Linked DNA regions of Homo sapiens. The protein of the gene in region 1 purifies or fractionates together with the protein of each later gene. This does not show direct contact. Each region holds a gene or a part of one and is shown on either strand. Other genes may lie near its edges.

Evidence for each region.
Region 2: the proteins of FCF1 (region 1) and SDR9C7 purify together in Homo sapiens (affinity purification with mass spectrometry; 2 studies listed by BioGRID and IntAct, with this or other methods). This does not show direct contact.
Region 3: the proteins of FCF1 (region 1) and ACP3 purify together in Homo sapiens (affinity purification with mass spectrometry; 2 studies listed by BioGRID and IntAct, with this or other methods). This does not show direct contact.
Region 4: the proteins of FCF1 (region 1) and IL1RN purify together in Homo sapiens (affinity purification with mass spectrometry; 2 studies listed by BioGRID and IntAct, with this or other methods). This does not show direct contact.

What each region holds. Positions count from the first base shown.
Region 1 is NC_000014.9:74,733,644-74,737,143, forward strand, and holds part of FCF1 (rRNA-processing protein FCF1 homolog), read left to right. Parts: intron 1-432; coding exon 433-527; intron 528-1,238; coding exon 1,239-1,287; 3' UTR 1,288-3,500. UniProt on the Homo sapiens protein: Part of the small subunit (SSU) processome, first precursor of the small eukaryotic ribosomal subunit.
Region 2 is NC_000012.12:56,924,409-56,927,908, forward strand, and holds part of SDR9C7 (short-chain dehydrogenase/reductase family 9C member 7), read right to left. Parts: intron 1-3,500. UniProt on the Homo sapiens protein: Plays a crucial role in the formation of the epidermal permeability barrier.
Region 3 is NC_000003.12:132,355,407-132,359,341, forward strand, and holds the end of ACP3 (prostatic acid phosphatase isoform PAP precursor), read left to right. Parts: intron 1-1,279; coding exon 1,280-1,472; 3' UTR 1,473-3,435; downstream 3,436-3,935. UniProt on the Homo sapiens protein: A non-specific tyrosine phosphatase that dephosphorylates a diverse number of substrates under acidic conditions (pH 4-6) including alkyl, aryl, and acyl orthophosphate monoesters and phosphorylated proteins.
Region 4 is NC_000002.12:113,126,314-113,130,397, forward strand, and holds the start of IL1RN (interleukin-1 receptor antagonist protein isoform 1 precursor), read left to right. Parts: upstream 1-1,284; 5' UTR 1,285-1,311; coding exon 1,312-1,427; intron 1,428-3,262; coding exon 3,263-3,351; intron 3,352-4,084. UniProt on the Homo sapiens protein: Anti-inflammatory antagonist of interleukin-1 family of proinflammatory cytokines such as interleukin-1beta/IL1B and interleukin-1alpha/IL1A.

The sequences.
Region 1 (3,500 bases):
GTAGGCCCAGAGCACACCCAAGCCCCAAGATCTAGGGAAAGGAGGGAGCTATGGCCTCCAAATTAAGGCACTTTTTATCTCCATGGAGTTCCTCGGAGCATTTTCCCAAAACTAAAGAATTGTCTGCCCCAAGTGTGAAAGTCCCTTTCATTTATGAGCAGAAAACAGTTTGCAGCTTGTGAAAAGTTTTCTACCTTCTCCTCCTCAAGATTCTAAATGCTGCATTCAGCCCAGGCAACTTGTTTATTTTATATAACAAGATTAGGAGCTCCTAGATCATAGTAGGTACTCAACAAATTGTTATAGCCTGCCCTTCGCTACTTACTGTGAAAATGAACGATTCTCAGACTGGTCAGTCGTTGTGCCATTATCCAGTATTCACTAAGCGTGCTCAGTGACCTCAGTGTGAACATCACTCCATGTCTCTTACAGCATAAGTGTTACATTGTGGCCACAGTTGACCGGGACCTGAAAAGAAGAATCCGTAAGATTCCTGGAGTTCCTATCATGTACATTTCTAACCATAGGTGAGAAATTTCCCTTGGAGAAGGGAATAGAAATATATAATTGATATCAATTGAAAATGAGGATAAGTGATAAGGTTATAAAGGATTTGAAAGAAATTATTGTATCAAATGTTTACATAGTTATATTTGAAGAAATGAGACAAAGCAAGAGCAAGAGCAAAAGAGAGAGATAGGATTTAAGGAATGAGGCAAACATTTAAATTGTTAGAGTAAGATTACTGGAAGAAATAGACGTATTGTTTTAAATAAAAGCAGTAATTTAAATCAAGCTAATCTTTTTGGCCAGAAATACCTGTTTTGAAAGATTTTTTTTTATTAACACTTCATCTGAGAAATGGAAAGCTTATTTAAAAAAAAAAAAAGCTGTTATCCTTCTTGGCTATTTTTTGTCAGTACTCAGACTTATTTTCCAGCTTTTCAGCTTGAGGAGAGCACAATGTGGTGGGAAGTCTGTGGACTAAGAAGTTGGACTTACTGATCTCAGCTCCTCAGTTCCCCTCTTGCTGACTTTGTGACTTTGAAAAAACAATCATATTGTATTATAGTCAGCATTTTGCTGTAAATCATTCATTATGATGTTCCCCTAAATTGTTTCCACTGACAAAAAGGATTCACAGTGGGGGTGAGAGTATTGCAGTCTATAAAGGATGGGTTTTTAGATGGGTTCTCTTCCCATCTTTCTTACCGGTGTTGATTTTTTGTCCTGATCAGATACAACATTGAACGGATGCCAGATGATTATGGAGCCCCTCGATTCTAATTCTTACAAGACACAGTTCCTCTGCCTTTCTTCGACCAACTTTCTCTTGTTGCCAGTTCATTACACAAAATGTAGCGGGATTTTTAAGGAATCAGAGAGACTGATGGAGTTCAGGGAGATATTTATTATTTAGGTGCACCAGCCCAGTCAGATTAACATCCAAAGGACTGAACCCTGAACAGAGTTAAGTTACCTTTTAAGCATTTTGTGGGGCCGCGGGGGTTGGGGGGAATCTGTGCAGGGGGAAGCATATTACAGAAGCAAGAAAGACAGTTATTCAATTAACTGAGACATGCATTACATCATTTCTTACTTTTCAAGGAAAATCATGTTTTACGACTTGAGTTTATCTGTCTAGTTACCTTGCAGCTGCACAGCTAGAGAAACAGGGTATTTACAATGCCTGGGAAAGGAGGAGAGATAAGGCTCACTAGCCACAGAAAAACAGGCAGTTAATTTTTAAAGGACTCCAGCTCTTTCTCTTTCTCACGGGGAATTGGATTTTCTTACATGCAACTGAATTTCTGCTTACACATTTTTAAATTTCTTTTAATTGCTTTTCCAATGCAATAGCATGAATTATTATTCTGTTGACCTATTTGCCTTACTATGAGCTGAGGGTAGTTCAATATGCTCACTCTTTTTTTTTTTTTTCTTGAGATGAAGTTTTGCTCTGTCACCAGGCTGGAGTGCAGTGGCGTGATCTGGGCTCACTGCAACCCCTGCCTCCCATCCTTCAAGTGATTCTCCTGCCTCAGCCTCCCGAGTAGCTGGGATTACAGGTACACACCACCATGCTCAACTAATTTTTCTTTTTTGGGCGGGGGGGGTGGATATTTTTAGTAGAGACAAATACTTTTGTATTTTTAATACAGAAAAGTATGCCTCGGCCTCCCAAAGTGCTGGAATTACAGACATGAGCCACTGTGCCTGGCCTGCTCACTTTCTGATGCTGCTTTTTTGTTGTTTGTTTGTTTATTTGTTTGTTTTGAGACGGAGTCTCGCTCTGTCACCAGGCTGGAGTGCAGTGGCGCAATCTCGGCTCATTGCAACCTCCGCCTCCCAGGTTCAAGCGATTCTCCTGCCTCAGCCTGCGGAGTAGCTGGGACTATAGGTGCGTGCCACCACGTCCAGCCACTGATGCTGTTTTGCCACTGATGCTGTTTTGAAATTGATATTTTGTCTCATAAAAACTAGGCCAGGCATGGTGGCTCATTCCTGTAATCCCAGCACTTTGGGAGGCCAAGGTGGGTGGATCACCTGAGGTCAGGAGTTGGAGATGAGCCTGGACAACATGGCAAAACCCCACCTCTACTAAAAATACAAAAAAAATTAGCTGGGTATGGTGTCACGTGCCTGTAATCCCAGCCACTGGGGAGGCTGAGGCAGGAGAACCTCTTGAACCCAGGAGGTGGAGGTTGCAGTGAGCTGAGATTGCGCCACTGCATTCCAGCCTGGGTGACAGAGTGAGACTGTCTCAAAAAAAAAAAAAAATTAATGATGGTCAAAGGGTATAAAATCTCAGACAGGAAGAATATGTTTTATGCTTTTTTTGAGTTCTGTTGTACAGTGTGGTGCCTATACTTAATAATGGGGTATTATACATTTCAAAATTGATGTTCTCATCACAGAAATGTATTTGAAGTATTGCATATGTTAACTAGCTTGATTTAACTATTCCATATTGTATCCACAATTTATGATATCACTTTGTAACCCATACATTTATACAATTATAAATTGTCAATTTACAATAAAAAATTTTTGTTGCGTCTTTTTAGAAATCAGATATTCTGATGATTGCTCACATAATTTGGCGGTCATTGTTTTATACTGACTTACTCAATAAACATTTATTAAATGTATACTAGGTGCTTAATAAGAGATGGTCCTGCCCTCAAGACACTCATTATGGTGGGAAAGAAAAACATGTAAATGAATAAATGCCGTAAAATAGCAGTGCTAGGGTAAAAGTTTCAGAGGCATGTCATGGGCACATAAAGGTGGAATGATTTTTTTCTACTGGTTGGGATGGAGAGGGAGGAAAGGCCAGTGGTCATGTGGTTTGAGCTAATCTTAAAAATGAATAGGTGCCTCCCCAGTAAATTAGGAATGGAAGATGAAGCATAGGAAACAGTACACCATAGAAAATCCATTAACCTATGTATAATCCCAGCACTTTGGGAGACTGAGGTGGGCAGATCACTTGAGGT
Region 2 (3,500 bases), on another chromosome or scaffold:
ACAGAATGACACGCTGTCTCAAAATAAATAAATAAATAAATAAATAAACAAATAGTCTTATTTATCTTTCTGAATTCAACAATTGTGCATTGAAGTCCTACTATTGCATTAGACTGGTGATGAGAAGAACTGTGCACATTCTCCTTATAACTGTGCCGCTTATTAGTTATATGACTTTGAGCTTAAACTTTTATTGTCTATAAAATGGAGATAATACTATCTTTCCTAAAGTTTGGGCATAGTGGCTCAGGCCTGTAATCCCAGTACTTTGGGATGCCAAGCCAGGCCAATCACCTGAGGTCAGGAGTTTGAGACCAGCCTGGCCAACATGGTGACACCTTGTCTCTACTAAAAATACAAAAATTAGGTGAGCGTGGTGGCGCGTGCCTATAATCGCAGCTACTCAGGAGGCTGAGGCATGACAATCACTTGAACTCAGGAGTGGGAGGTTGCAGTGACCCAAGATCGCGCCACTGCATTCCAGCCTGGGCAACAGAGTGAGACTCCATCTCAAAAAATATCTGTCCTGGAGAATAACAAAGATGATTAACAGCAGGGTAGACACTGGGGGAGTACAGAAGAGCAAACATGATGGGAAAACAGCCCTTTTTTTTTTCTTCTATGTACTTCCTAGAGTTCCCACATTTAAACAAAAACATGCAGGAGAAAATATTATTTAAAAATAGTAATACTGCCCCTACCTCAGTCATAAGGCCACTGTCACTCAAATAATCTAAGGCATAGACAAGCACCTCGTGGGGCCCTCACAAATGTGAGGAGTTGTTCTGTTTGCATTGACCCACAGGGGTGGAGATGGGGACAGAGCACCCAAATAGTACAAGTCTGCCAAAGTTCATGACATAAATGGGAGAAGGGCCACACCACACACCCACCAGGCCCTCATCTGCATCCTCACCCCAGGACAGGGGGATTCATGCTTCATTGAGAGCCCTGAGGACTCCAGGGAAAATGATGCTTCAAAGTCAGACTGCCCTGATAAGGTATGAAAACTTGAAAATGGAGAGGAAGCCAAAGCTGCCCTGACTTTGAGAATGGTCCAGGCAGGCAAGGAATTCACCCGCTTGGGGCCAGGACCCTTGTGGGTGGTTGGTGAGAATGGGGCAGCATCACTTCAGTCCCCTTCACCCCAGACTCCGAGAAACTCCATTTTCTGTTTCCTGGAAAGAAAACTGATGCAGGGGAAAAGCCAAACTATATTTTGGGATCTCAACAAGAGCCACACTAACTCAAAGCCAGACTGTCCATAAAGCAGTAATGTCTTAGGAAGCCACACCCTGACCTCTGACCGTAGAGCTGGCACAGAGGCCACCAGCAGCAGGGCTGAGGGTCGAAGGAATCGTTCAGGATGCCCAGGAGGCTCTCTCTGCCCCCTCGGCGCCAGGGAAAGCTTTGTGGGCTGAGGATGTGGAGCAAGCTGACATGGTGAGATGGGCTGGGGACTGGGTTCTGAGAGGTGGGGAGGGCTTGCACAGGCAGTGGGGTGGGAGAAGTTACCCCAGACATGGGGAATGGTATGAGGCACTTGCTTTCATTGTTTTCTCAAATAGATATTAGCTGCCATTCAGTGCTGGGCACCCTGCTAGGCATGGAGTAGGATGGGAGACGGAAGGACCCATCCAGCTTTGTCACTCTCCTTCACAGTGAGGAAGGACATAGGCTTTGGAGCTGGGCACCTGGGAAAATGTTTTTGTTATTGGGAGAATTAAGCAGGACAAAATCTATAAAGTATCAGGCCTGGTCCTAGGGGTTACAAGCCAGGGGCCTGTTTGGTCAGTCACAGCAACTGGCTGAGTTTGTACCCAGCGATGCTCTAGGACTACTCCTAAATATCTCTTCTGTCTGTCACATAGCCACCCCCCACCACCAGAACCATCAGGACTTACAACTTCATGTCTTTATCGTTCCTTCACTGGGTTTCTGCAGTAGTCCCCCAGGTGGACTTTTTATCCTTCCCACGGTGACACAAATCTGATCCTTCATTTCAGAGCCATTTACAAGGCTCTCTAATGCCTTTAGGATAAGAGCCATGCTCCCTACTATAGCAATCAAAGCATTTCATGATCTGACTCCTAATCTCTCCCCTCCTCAATCATCACCCACAGCACTCCTGCCAGACTATAATGGCAATGGCAAAGGTTTGTTCAGCTCTTACTGTAGCAGAGCTGAGTACTTTGCATTTCTGTTTAATTCTCCTAACAATCCATGAGAGAGGAATTGTACTTTATAAATGGATAAACAAGTTTGGAGAGCTATACAACATGATTAGAGGGACTGCTGGAATACAAGCCTGAATCTGCACTGCCTCCAAAAGCATACAATGCTATGTCAGGTCACTAAAACGTTGCTCACACCCTTCCTCTTGTGTGAAACATCCGCCATCTCTTTCCCTTTTGGTGTACTCCTATTCATCCTTCAAAACTCACTAAGGCATTAACTGTCACCTCTGTAAGGCTTCTGTGACAGCAGAATGAAGTCTGCATTGCTGCTTTGTTTTGTATGCATGTCCATTATAGCAAGATTCTTCATGTGGTGGTGTATTTGCTTTCACATCTTCCCTGCTAGTTTCCTGGAGAGTGTCTCATCTCTGAATCCCAATAAACACTGGGCAACTGAAGCAAAAATTCTAGTATAACCACTTGGGAAAACGTTTATCTAAATGTAGTTGACCACTGCCTGAAAATTTTCCTCTGAAATTATGGTGTGGACTACAGGTGAATTGGCCTAAGATATTTTATAAACCCAATCCTTACTATTCTTTAGTACAATACTAGCTTTTGGACAAGGTTTTCGGAGGAGTTTGCCTTTATACATATTCTTTCATGGACCACACTAAAGATGCTACAAGCTCTCTTCACCCTGAGTGCTTACTTAGAAAATGACTTTGTGAGGTTTCCAGACACTGGCTGAACCCATTTCACCCCAGCCTCCAAGCAGCTCCACAAATAATTTGAACTACTCTTTGCTAAGAATGATCACACAGAGGATAAATATTCTTCCCCACACATGCTAACATCTTCTCTCCTTGTTCCCAACAGCTGCAGATTTCCCTCTGGGGACCTATGCCTCCCCCACACTGTGTCCATTGGTCTGGGCAGAGCACACAGCCCAGCCTGAGCCAATCACACCTTCACATTCCCCTGGGCGCAGTGATTGGTTTAGGGTTGGGTGCATCTTGTGGTCCCCCATGACGCGGTCACCATAAGGTCCTCCAAGTCGGAGTGTACATTAGGACTTTTGGGAGAGGTACTGGAAATAACTCTCCTATTTTCCCAGCAGACCTCACCCTAGGTGGAGGTGAAGAGAGGCTGCAGCAATGTGGCTCCCACAGGGGAGAGAGCTTAGAGACTGGAGTCAGTGCAAAAGAAGCAGAGCCAAGAAATGGGTGGAACCAGGTCCTAGCAACATCATTTGCAGTCTGGGTCAGGTTGTACCTGAAGCTTATCTTGCTCAACTTTTTAGTCAGGTGAGGCAAGAAATTC
Region 3 (3,935 bases), on another chromosome or scaffold:
TTCCAAGATATAAGTACCCATTCATAATACATATTAGGGAGGTTTTTGTAAGTTTTATAGACATCTTATTTTATTTTATCTTATTTTATTTTATTTTATTTTATTTTTATTTTATTTTATTTTATTTTTGAGATGGAGTCTCGCTCTGTTGCCCAGGCTAGAGTGTAGTGGCGTGATCTCGGCTAACTGCAACCTCCACCTCCCAGGTTCAAGTGATTCTCCCGCCCCAGCCTCCCAAATAGCTGGGACTATAGGCATGTGCCACCACACCCAGCTAATTTTTGTATTTTTAGTAGAGACGGGGTTTCACCGTGTTAGCCAGGATGGTCTCGATCTCCTGACCTCGTGATCCACCCGCCTCGACCTCCCAAAGTGCTGGGATTACAGGCGTGAGCCACTGCGCCCAGCCTTATAGACATAAGTGAATATTTGCTGTTACTATGTTTATATGGCTTTTTAAAGTGATGTTTTAAAAGGCTTGTTTATAATGACAACCAAAAGTAGCCATTGTAAGGTTACACCAAAAGAAGGATCTCTAAATCCTTCTTGAGTTCCCCTCCTGACTCCTTGATTAGCAAATGGCTTCCATAAGCAACTCACGCTGGTTTAACTCAGGTTAGTTTACACCATTGGACCTTCCCAAATAGTACATTGTTTTTTTGAGATAAAGCATTGAGAGAGCTCTCCTTAACGTGACACAATGGAAGGACTGGAACACATACCCACATCTTTGTTCTGAGGGATAATTTTCTGATAAAGTCTTGCTGTATATTCAAGCACATATGTTATATATTATTCAGTTCCATGTTTATAGCCTAGTTAAGGAGAGGGGAGATACATTCAGAAAGAGGACTGAAAGAAATACTCAAGTAGGAAAACAGAAAAAGAAAAAAAGGAGCAAATGAGAAGCCTAAAAAGAAGGGAGGAGGAGAAGGAAAACCCAACACCCCCACCTGCCTCCCACTTCTTATCCAAAGGCTCAAAGTCCCACCCAGCTCCCTGCAACCATCACTTCTCACCACCTCCTCTGATTTAGCATCCTGGTGCCTACCTCCTATGTCCCTGTTCATCTAACAAACCAGCCCTCCCATTTCCACCCTGCAAATCTCTCCCGCCTGCCCCAGTCTCCCCATTTACACACCTAAATTGGCTAAAATCTCCCCATAAGTTTTTCCATTAGTCCCTCAACTGGCATGTAATAGTCCAAGTGGAAAGAAATTCAGTGGCAGTTCAACAACACAGAACTAACAGAGCTCTCTCCTCTGCCTTTGTCTGCCAGGGAGTACTTTGTGGAGATGTACTATCGGAATGAGACGCAGCACGAGCCGTATCCCCTCATGCTACCTGGCTGCAGCCCCAGCTGTCCTCTGGAGAGGTTTGCTGAGCTGGTTGGCCCTGTGATCCCTCAAGACTGGTCCACGGAGTGTATGACCACAAACAGCCATCAAGGTACTGAAGACAGTACAGATTAGTGTGCACAGAGATCTCTGTAGAAGGAGTAGCTGCCCTTTCTCAGGGCAGATGATGCTTTGAGAACATACTTTGGCCATTACCCCCAGCTTTGAGGAAAATGGGCTTTGGATGATTATTTTATGTTTTAGGGACCCCCAACCTCAGGCAATTCCTACCTCTTCACCTGACCCTGCCCCCACTTGCCATAAAACTTAGCTAAGTTTTGTTTTGTTTTTCAGCGTTAATGTAAAGGGGCAGCAGTGCCAAAATATAATCAGAGATAAAGCTTAGGTCAAAGTTCATAGAGTTCCCATGAACTATATGACTGGCCACACAGGATCTTTTGTATTTAAGGATTCTGAGATTTTGCTTGAGCAGGATTAGATAAGGCTGTTCTTTAAATGTCTGAAATGGAACAGATTTCAAAAAAAAACCCCACAATCTAGGATGGGAACAAGGAAGGAAAGATGTGAATAGGCTGATGGGCAAAAAACCAATTTACCCATCAGTTCCAGCCTTCTCTCAAGGAGAGGCAAAGAAAGGAGATACAGTGGAGACATCTGGAAAGTTTTCTCCACTGGAAAACTGCTACTATCTGTTTTTATATTTCTGTTAAAATATATGAGGCTACAGAACTAAAAATTAAAACCTCTTTGTGTCCCTTGGTCCTGGAACATTTATGTTCCTTTTAAAGAAACAAAAATCAAACTTTACAGAAAGATTTGATGTATGTAATACATATAGCAGCTCTTGAAGTATATATATCATAGCAAATAAGTCATCTGATGAGAACAAGCTATTTGGGCACAACACATCAGGAAAGAGAGCACCACGTGATGGAGTTTCTCTAGAAGCTCCAGTGATAAGAGATGTTGACTCTAAAGTTGATTTAAGGCCAGGCATGGTGGTTTACGCCTATAATCCCAGCATTTTGGGAGTCCGAGGTGGGCAGATCACTTGAGCTCAGGAGGTCAAGATCAGCCTGGGCAACATGGTGAAACCTGGTCTCTACATAAAATACAAAAACTTAGATGGGCATGGTGGTGTGTGCCTATAGTCCCACTACTTGTGGGGCTAAGGCAGGAGGATCACTTGAGCCCCGGAGGTCGAGGCTACAGTGAGCCAAGAGTGCACTACTGTACTCCAGCCAGGGCAAGAGAGCGAGACCCTGTCTCAATAAATAAATAAATAAATAAATAAATAAATAAATAAATAAATAAAAACAAAGTTGATTAAGAAAGGAAGTATAGGCCAGGCACAGTGGCTCACACCTGTAATCCTTGCATTTTGGAAGGCTGAGGCAGGAGGATCACTTTAGGCCTGGTGTGTTCAAGACCAGCCTGGTCAACATAGTGAGACACTGTCTCTACCAAAAAAAGGAAGGAAGGGACACATATCAAACTGAAACAAAATTAGAAATGTAATTATGTTCTAAGTGCCTCCAAGTTCAAAACTTATTGGAATGTTGAGAGTGTGGTTACGAAATACGTTAGGAGGACAAAAGGAATGTGTAAGTCTTTAATGCCGATATCTTCAGAAAACCTAAGCAAACTTACAGGTCCTGCTGAAACTGCCCACTCTGCAAGAAGAAATCATGATATAGCTTTGCCATGTGGCAGATCTACATGTCTAGAGAACACTGTGCTCTATTACCATTATGGATAAAGATGAGATGGTTTCTAGAGATGGTTTCTACTGGCTGCCAGAATCTAGAGCAAAGCCATCCCCGCTCCTGGTTGGTCACAGAATGACTGACAAAGACATCGATTGATATGCTTCTTTGTGTTATTTCCCTCCCAAGTAAATGTTTGTCCTTGGGTCCATTTTCTATGCTTGTAACTGTCTTCTAGCAGTGAGCCAAATGTAAAATAGTGAATAAAGTCATTATTAGGAAGTTCAAAAGCATTGCTTTTATAATGAACTTAGAAAAACGTATGTGTGTGTGTTTAATTAGAATAAAATTCCTCTAGGCAGATTTCAGGAGCTCCCTTTGTGTTTGGGGTTTTTGTTTTAGTATAACAAGATGGAAAATATTAATATAAAGTAAAATGATTTGACTGGCTTAAATGAACATTTTACATTGAAAATATAGTTTGGACTTTACCACTTCAGATAAAGGTGAAGCTGTGGATGGCTCTGCCTCATCTATTTAAGATGGAATTTGCTAAGGAAACACCCTCAGGAAGTGCACAATATACTAGGGAAGTAAAGAGATACATACTGTACAACATGGAAAAACCAGGGCTATGTCTTATGACTACACAGATTACTGTGGGAACAAGAGTTATCCAGATTTGGAGTAGGGGAAGTAAGGAAGGTCAGGAAAGGCTTTCTGCAGAAGGTAGCAACTGTACCACGTAAAATCAGTTTGAGGCCAGGCGAGGTGGCTCAGGCCTGTAATCCCAGCACTTTGGGAGGCCAAGGTGGGCGGATCACAAGGTCAGGAGATTGAGACCATCCTGGCTAACACGGTGAAACCCCAT
Region 4 (4,084 bases), on another chromosome or scaffold:
AAGACCTGGATTTCTCTGCATACTTTTGCCATCAGCAAGCTGTGTGACCTTGGACAGATCCCTTTTTTGTCTAAATCTTTCTGAGTCTTCTTGAAAACAATGCCAGGTTGGGACAGGATGATTGCCAAGCTCCCGTCCAGCTCTAAAACACTGCAACGTATGCTTCTGCACCAGCACTGTCCATCCTGTAGATCATGCAGAAATTCTCTTCAACTTTTTCCTACCCATAAAATAGGAGCATGCTTACCTTTTTCCTAATGTTCCAGGCCCCGGGTCTAGAATATTGTAAGTAAGGAAGTTAATGTGTATCAGAGCCCATTATGGGCCAGAAGTTCTCCTCTTCCTTCCTACACCTGCTTCCTCCCTCCCTCCCTCCCTCTTTCCCTTCCTTCCTTCCATCCATTTGTGAAGAAGACATGATCACCCTCATTCTGAGAGTGAAGAGACAGAGGCTCAACTAATGAAATGATTTGTTCAAGGTCACACGGGTGGCACAAGGCAAGTGGCAGAGGTTGAATTTAGACCCATTCCTGTCCAAATGCTGAGTTTATGTCATCGTCCCGAGACCATAACTTTAAAGATGTAAGATAGTGGGAAAAGAGTTGATTTCAAAGCACCTCTCAGAAGGACTCACTTTACATCAGGGGTCAGCAGACTCAGGCCAAATCCGGTCCATTCCCCGCTTTTGCAAAGAAAGTTGTAGTGGAACACAGCTAGGCTTATTGATTTATGGATTGCCAACGTCCTTTTGTGAAACAGACAGCTGAGCTGAGTAATCGTGGCGCACAAAACCTAAAATATTTACTATCTCGTCCTTTACAGAATGTTTGCCAATCTATGGTCCGGAGTCCAAGGCTGTCCATTTTTCAAAGAACACAAAGTGACATGAGACTGTCCCATGTGCAGGGAGCCCTATCATTTTATTATGAAAAAACGGCCTTTCTGCTCAAATCTGTTTTTTAAAAAGTCAACAAACAGACTCTGGGTACCTGTCAGGAACAGTAGGGAGTTTGGTTTCCATTGTGCTCTTCTTCCCAGGAACTCAATGAAGGGGAAATAGAAATCTTAATTTTGGGGAAATTGCACAGGGGAAAAAGGGGAGGGAATCAGTTACAACACTCCATTGCGACACTTAGTGGGGTTGAAAGTGACAACAGCAAGGGTTTCTCTTTTTGGAAATGCGAGGAGGGTATTTCCGCTTCTCGCAGTGGGGCAGGGTGGCAGACGCCTAGCTTGGGTGAGTGACTATTTCTTTATAAACCACAACTCTGGGCCCGCAATGGCAGTCCACTGCCTTGCTGCAGTCACAGAATGGAAATCTGCAGAGGCCTCCGCAGTCACCTAATCACTCTCCTCCTCTTCCTGTTCCATTCAGAGACGATCTGCCGACCCTCTGGGAGAAAATCCAGCAAGATGCAAGCCTTCAGGTAAGGCTACCCCAAGGAGGAGAAGGTGAGGGTGGATCAGCTGGAGACTGGAAACATATCACAGCTGCCAGGGGCTGCCAGGCCCCAGAGGGCCTGAGAACTGGGTTTGGGCTGGAGAGGATGTCCATTATTCAAGAAAGAGGCTGTTACATGCATGGGCTTCAGGACTTGTGTTTCAAAATATCCCAGATGTGGATAGTGCGACCGGAGGGCTGTCTTACTTTCCCAGAGACTCAGGAACCCAGTGAGTAATAGATGCATGCCAAGGAGTGGGACTGCGATTCAGGCCTAGTTGAATGTGCTGACAGAGAAGCAGAGAGGGGCACCAGGGGCACAGCCCGAAGGCCCAGACTGATATGGGCAAGGCCTGTCTGTGCTGACATGTCGGAGGGTCCCACTCTCCAGGGACCTTGGTTTCCCCGTCTGTGACATCTGTGACATGAGAGTCACGATAACTCCTTGTGTGCCTTACAGGGTTGTTGTGAAAATTAAATGCACAGATAATAGCGTAACAGTATTCCGTGCATTGTAAAGAGCCTGAAAACCATTATGATTTGAAAATGGAATCGGCTTTGTGAGACCATCACTATTGTAAAGATGTGATGCTGATAGAAATGACAGGACTGCTTGTGCATGCCCTCTGCAGTGTGACATTCCAGCAGTGAAATCATGTTGGGGTGACTTCTCCCCCACTCTGACCTTTATGTTTGTCTGGGCCGAGGCTGCAAGTCGGGCTCTGTGGGTGTATGAGTGACAAGTCTCTCCCTTCCAGATATGGGGACTGTCTGCTTCCCTAGGTTGCCTCTCCCTGCTCTGATCAGCTAGAAGCTCCAGGAGATCCTCCTGGAGGCCCCAGCAGGTGATGTTTATCCCTCCAGACTGAGGCTAAATCTAGAAACTAGGATAATCACAAACAGGCCAATGCTGCCATATGCAAAGCACTTTGGTTTGCCTGGCCACCCCTCGTCGAGCATGTGGGCTCTTCAGAGCCACCTGATGAGGTGGGTACAGTTAGCCACACTTCACAGGTGAAGAGGTGAGGCACAGGTCCCAGGTCAGGCTGGCCAGAGCTCTGTTTATTACGTCTCACAGCTTTGAGTCCTGCTCTCAACCAGAGAGGCCCTTTACCAAGAAGAAAGGATTGGGACCCAGAATCAGGTCACTGGCTGAGGTAGAGAGGAAGCCGGGTTGTTCCCAAGGGTAGCTGCTCCTGCAGGACTCTGAGCAGGTCACCAGCTAATGGAGGAAAGGCTCTAGGGAAAGACCCTTCTGGTCTCAGACTCAGAGCGAGTTAGCTGCAAGGTGTTCCGTCTCTTGAAACTTCTACCTAGGTGCTATGGTAGCCACTAGTCTCAGGTGGCTATTTAAATTTATACTTAAATGAATGAAAATAGAAGAAAATTTAAAATCCAGACCCTTGGTCACACTATCCACATTTAAAGAGGTCAATAGCCACATGTGGTTAGTGGCCACCCTATTGGGCAGTGCAGCTACAGAACATTTTTGCATCCCAGAAAGTTCTTTTGGATGTTGCTGCTCTACAGCATGCTTTGCTGAAACAGAAGTGCCTTCCCTGGGAATCTCAGATGGGAAGCAAGTAAGGAGGGGAGTCAAATGTGGGCTCACTGCTCACCAGCTGTGAGGGTTGGGCCTGCCTCTTAACCATTGTCAGCCTCAGTCTTCTCATCCATGCATGCCGTGGGTATACTAAAATACTATACCCCTGGAAGAGCTGGATGCAAATTTGACAAGTTCTGGGGGACACAGGAAGGTGCCAAGCACAAGGCTGGGCACATGGTGGCTGTGCACTACAGCTGAGTCCTTTTCCTTTTCAGAATCTGGGATGTTAACCAGAAGACCTTCTATCTGAGGAACAACCAACTAGTTGCTGGATACTTGCAAGGACCAAATGTCAATTTAGAAGGTGAGTGGTTGCCAGGAAAGCCAATGTATGTGGGCATCACGTCACTTTGCCCGTCTGTCTGCAGCAGCATGGCCTGCCTGCACAAACCCTAGGTGCAATGTCCTAATCCTTGTTGGGTCTTTGTATTCAAGTTTGAAGCTGGGAGGGCCTGGCTACTGAAGGGCACATATGAGGGCAGCCTGAAGAGGGTGTGGAGAGGTAGAGTCTAGGTCAGAGGTCAGTGCCTATAGGCACAGTGGTCCCAGGGCCACAGCTGGGAAGGGCAAATACCAGAAGGCAAGGTTGACCATTCCCTTCCTCAAGTGCCTATTAAGGCTCCATGTTCCTATGTTGTTCAAACCCTAACTCAATCCCAAATTAATCCACCATGTATAAGGTTGAGCTATGTCTCTTATTCCTGGACACCATACTCAGCCATATTCTGGTCCACACATTAAACAAGCTGGATGACCTTGAAGAAGCTTCACCCACTCTGTTCCTCAGCTTTCCCTTCAGTGGGATGATATCAACTGGACAACAGGATGTGCGATTCTTTTAGTTCCAGCCTTCCAGGATGTTTTCACTCCCCTGTTTGTTGTTGTAGGATGGTATTACCTCCACCTTCCCACCTTCCCTATGCCCTGGTTCTGTCTCCTGTGCCTCGCTCTGAAAGTGGATGAGACCTACAATTCCTGTCCTGGTAGTTCTCCTAATGAACACACTGAAGCACGAGGAAGCTGAGATTTTTGTTGCT